2 separate regions of the Homo sapiens genome follow, and region 2 is linked to region 1. The links come from fine-mapping of genetic effects on gene expression. Tissue or cell type: T cells. Region 1 holds a variant in brackets; the other region holds the start of a gene. All regions are shown on one strand. Distances are between the middles of the regions.

Evidence for each region. PIP is the estimated chance that this variant, and not a neighbour inherited with it, causes the effect.
Region 2: it holds the start of VTI1B, and the variant in region 1 is fine-mapped to the expression of VTI1B in T cells (TOPMed, PIP above 0.99). The same link has a PIP of 0.9 or more in aorta, blood mononuclear cells and lymphoblastoid cells.

The regions. Positions count from the first base shown.
Region 1 is chr14:67,648,911-67,651,410 of GRCh38, forward strand. It overlaps ARG2 (arginase 2), which reads left to right. Exons shown (of 8, transcript NM_001172.4): 8 at 1,805-2,500. The coding sequence ends at 2,010. VTI1B (vesicle transport through interaction with t-SNAREs 1B) reads right to left here. Exons shown (of 6, transcript NM_006370.3): 6 at 1-2,500. The coding sequence ends at 2,475. It also overlaps a transcript of GPHN not described here. Among named protein-coding and RNA genes, the nearest start is that of VTI1B, 24 kb to the right of the region's middle. The variant C/A (reference allele first, on the strand shown) is at 1,379.
Region 2 is chr14:67,673,436-67,676,080 of GRCh38, forward strand. VTI1B (vesicle transport through interaction with t-SNAREs 1B) reads right to left here and starts at 1,197. Exons shown (of 6, transcript NM_006370.3): 1 at 940-1,197. The coding sequence starts at 1,054. It also overlaps a transcript of GPHN not described here. RefSeq lists silencers at 872-981, 1,082-1,521.

The DNA of each region.
Region 1 (2,500 bases):
CAGATTGAAAGGTTCAGGGCTATAGAGAACCCTTGACTAGCTGGGATAGAAACTCACATTGAGAAATGGTCTCCTTAGCGCCACAGCCTGCCAGAACCTTAGGCAGTACAAAAAGGCAGGCAGTACTGGTCTAATTCTCAGATCTGCAATCTTAGATGTTGCCAGTGGTCCTTAGGTTATTGGCCAGAGAACTTGGGGGTTCAATTCTCTGCTTTGCTTCCTAAAAACACCACTTAGAGCAGGGGTTAATAACCTCTAGCACTTATATATGGCATGGCTTGTCTCTTTGTTCCTATGCTACAATATTTTACTCCAAAAGACACTCATGGGGCTAGGCACAGTGGTTCATACCTATAATCCCAGTACTCTGGGAGGCCAAGGCAAGAGGATTACTTGACCCCAGGGGTTCAAGACCAGCGTGGGCAACATAGTGTGACCCCGTTTCTACAAAAAATAATTAGCCAGGTGTCCCAACTACTTGGGAGGTTGAGGCTGCAGTGAGCCATGATTGTGCCACTGCACTGTTATAATGCTGTCAACTAGATACATAAAGCAGTTTGCTTAATTTATAGGGTGGCAATAGTCTGGAAACATAAGTCATGTATATATTTCTAATAGTGCAAACTTTGATGACCACTTCTGGGATATGCTAAAGGTGCAGGTTTAGTCAGTGGAAATCAGAGACAAATCAGGAACACAGGTCCATGTGCAGGAAATGATGGAAATGCTACAGTAATACACCTGTTGGTTGCAGTTTGGCACTGTACACTCAACTATGCATTGCTAATAAGGGAAGATGCTGAACGGACATGATGGCATTCAGCACATCATGTACTATAGTGTAATATCAATAAACCATTAGGTACATTTGCCTGTGTTTCCAGACTTTATGGCCACCCTAAATATTCTTAGATACTTGTATTCCTGAATACTAGCTTGTTCAGATCACCCTTCATCCAGAATAACCAACTAAAAAGTTAAATTCTATAGAGAAGTGAGGCATTTAGAGGGGTGAGCATAGTAGCAGGTCTGGATAGGTTCTTCTGGTTTAAGCTTCCCTTCCACTTGCTCCAGGCCAAAGGAACACTACCGAGAACTTTGACACAAGTTCTCAAACCTTAACAGAAGGTAACTGAAGTCCAGATAAAATAATTAACATATGGCTGAATTTTCTCTTGATCAAGTACAAGACACTGGGTCAGTCTGCTGGGAGACAAAAAGATGTTGTTAGATGTGGAACCTGCCTCCAGAGCTCAGGCCTGCAGGGGTGAGAATGAAGTTTGCAGTAATAACTACATTTCAGGGCATATGGTGTGGTGCTCTAACAGATACAGATAACACATTAGAGTTCAAAAGTGGGAATGCAGTTTGGCTAGTG[C/A]AAGTGGCAGATTTCCTCTGCCTTCATACTTGATTCATTTCCAGGCAGGCATCTGGAAGGTTCCTAGTCATACTGGAGGTGGCATACATTTTGCCAACAAGCAGGATGAAAACCTCCCCCACCCAACACCAAGCCTTTTCCTTTTCCAGAACGCCTGACAATTATGCCTGTTATGTTAGTTGAACAGGGATGGTTTATTTCATTATCTTAAAAGGTTTCTTTTAATCTACTATAGCACAACAGTGTTTTAACTTAAATTCATGGCCAAGAGGATGAGGTGCAAGGGGCTTCCTAAAAATAGGTATTTTCTACTATAAAATGGACTCTTGTTTTTACTTTGGCTTGTTCTCCCTGTCCCAGTGGGATGACCCTCACTGAGAGTAGCAGCAAGGGAACCTGAGGTTTTGTCACACTTTGTTCTTCCAGGGTTGCTATCAGCACTGGATCTTGTTGAAGTCAATCCTCAGTTGGCCACCTCAGAGGAAGAGGCGAAGACTACAGCTAACCTGGCAGTAGATGTGATTGCTTCAAGCTTTGGTCAGACAAGAGAAGGAGGGCATATTGTCTATGACCAACTTCCTACTCCCAGTTCACCAGATGAATCAGAAAATCAAGCACGTGTGAGAATTTAGGAGACACTGTGCACTGACATGTTTCACAACAGGCATTCCAGAATTATGAGGCATTGAGGGGATAGATGAATACTAAATGGTTGTCTGGGTCAATACTGCCTTAATGAGAACATTTACACATTCTCACAATTGTAAAGTTTCCCCTCTATTTTGGTGACCAATACTACTGTAAATGTATTTGGTTTTTTGCAGTTCACAGGGTATTAATATGCTACAGTACTATGTAAATTTAAAGAAGTCATAAACAGCATTTATTACCTTGGTATATCATACTGGTCTTGTTGCTGTTGTTCCTTCACATTTAAGTGGTTTTTCATCTTTCCTCCCTCCTCCCACAGCCTGGCTATACAGTGCATCCTTGAACTGTCAGCCCACAGCAGCAATATGCTTATTCTATCCACATCCCTAACATCATGCATTCACAAGGTCAAAGTTCTGGTCCACAAACCCTTCCCTATAGAAGTTCAATGGCTGCGAAAGAATTTGTAGT
Region 2 (2,645 bases), 25 kb after region 1:
TCTTAATAGTTATATATTGTTTATCACCTACCCACTAGAATGGGGATGTTCGTATCTTTTTCACTGTAATTTGCAATATTCACCAGCACCTAGAACGGTGCCTCACAATTCACCAGCACCTAGCACACAGCAGCCTCACAATAAATATATATTAAATACATGAATTTCATTCTCACCAGTCATTCAATTCCTATGACCTTGAGTAATTCGTTGAGCAAACACCCAAGCTCTGACTCTTAAATAAAAGCAATAAAACAAAGTTTTGTCCTTGCCATCAAATTCTATATATCCGGAGGCCAAGAACTATAGCAGCTTTTCCTATGGATTTAGGGCCGGAAAACTCTAGCTCCTCCAGACAGAACTTGTAGCAACCTGAATCATGAAATTAAGGGGTAGTAAACAGTCTCAGCTGTAAAAACGTTCAAAACAAGACCACATCTAAATGCCACAATCAGGTTTTAAAGGCCAGCTCTCTACCCTCCAATAACTGGTATTTACCAACACCCCCAAATTATGACTCCTTTGGGTTTTTAACCCTTTTTCTGTGCTACGGATCCTCTGTCAGTCTGGTGAAAACTAGACCTGTCTTGAGACTAGTGCTTTTAAATGCATAAAACAAACAAAAACAGCTATGAAAGAAACCCACTCTACATTACAGGACCGCAGATGCAAAAGCCCCTCTGCTCTATTTGCCACAGTGAAAAAAGATGAGAAAATGTGGAAGGCCATAGAAGGATCCCAGGGAACTGAATCCCGAGGTCCAATTTACTCTCAGTGGCAGCAGGGAGACCTGGGGCTGGGACAAGCCAGCCCTAGGGGGCGTGTCTGAGGACGCGGAGGGAGGAGACGCGGGCCCGGGTCTGGGAGGAAGGTGGGAGAATCTTCCTTCCAAAGCGCGCAGGGCTGCGCTCCCCACGGCGTGGCCCACCCCCGCCTCACCGGTCCCCGCCGTCCCCAGCAGCCGCTCGGGCACCCCTTGTAGGTCTTCATGGAGGCCGCGGAAGATCTCGTGCAGCTTCTCGAAATGCTCCGAGGAGGCGGCGGAGGAGGCCATGGCGCAGGCCGCGCTGGAGCAGCGGCCACCGAGATTCGGGGCCCTGGGCCCTTTCCTAGCCCGGCGGTCAGCCGCCCAGCCCAGTGGCCATAACGGCGACCGCCGCACCACCGCCGCCCAGGACGAGGCTCTTCCGGAGCCGCGGCAGGGTCCTCTCGAGCCGGAACGCCCACCTTCTCCAGCCAGTGATTGCTGGAGCGCCGGCGCGAAAGCCTGACGAGAAGTCGGGAGACTGCGCGGCCTAGGCGACTCCTGAGGGAGCGGTGCCGCGCCGGGGCGATCGGCAGTCGCGGAACCCGAGAAGTGCCGGGTCCGGGTTGGGGAAAGGCCGCAGCGAAAGGGGCCTAGGGGACCTGCGGGACTGGCAGCGCGGCCGCCTTCCTCCCGGGCCCCGCCGGCCGGCGAGGGGCGGGCGCTGCAGTGCACGCCGGGGGATGTAGTTTGGCTCGGACGAGAGCGTCTCGTCCCGGGGTCGCGCGTTGCTCCGGGTGCCAGGTTCAGCCCGCGCGGCGACAGCGGGCTTCGGCCCGATTTGATGTATGTTTGCGTCTAGACGTCGTCCTCACTGTCATCGCGCTTTGCTTTGCCACCCTGACCCGAATTCCTCGTTTCGCGTCTTGACTGTTAGCTTTCGGCCCTGGAAAGATAGCCGGGCCAGGGGCTCTGCCTGCCGTCGGGAGGTGGAGCACTTTTCTTGGAAGGCCCAGCGGCTCCCCAAGCTTTCAGAAGTGGAACCCGGCCGGGCGAGTGGCTCGCGCCTGTAATCCCAGTACTTTGGGAGGCCGAGGTGGGAGGATTGCTTGAACCCAGTAGTTCGAGACCAGCCTGGGCACAATAGCGAGAGCTCTACCAGAAACCCAAAATAAGAACCGGGCATGGTGGCGCGCACTTTTGGCCCCAGCTACCCCCGGAGGCTGAGGTCCCACCACTGCACTCCAGCTTTGGGAGACCTTGCTCCCAAGTGGAGCGAGATCTTGTCTCCAAAAAAACAAAAAACCCAAAAACCAAAAATTCAAAAGTGGAACCCAGTTAGGATGACCTCGAAATACTCTAGCTGCTAGGCCCGAGTAATTCTCCTCGTGGAGACTAATTCTCCTCCTAGGCTGCCTCGTGCACTTGTTGACAACAGGTGTTTGTCAAGCGTAGGCATTGCGAGGGATCTGGGCATGTTGGTGAATAAAACATTTAATCTCTGCTCCAGGGGAATTTATAATCTGGTGTGGAAGGTGGGCCTGGCTTCATTAGGTCTCATCTGCCACTAAGTGTCACGTGTTAAAAATTACAAGGTCCCTTCTTGCACTCCATGGGTATAAATTCCTGTCTTCACGTCGGGCATGGTGGCTCACGCGTCATCCCAGCACTTTGGGAGGCCGAGGCGGGCGGATCACTTCAGGTCAAGAGTTCAAGACCAGCCTGGCCAACATGGTGAAACCCCCGTCTCTGCTAAAAACACAAAAATTAGCCAAGCGTGGTGGTGGGCGCCTGTAACCCCAGCTACTCGGGAGGCTGAGGCAGGAGAATCGCCTGAACCCGGGAGGCAGTGGTTGCAGTGAGCTGAGATCGTGCCACCACACTCCAGCCTGGGTGACAG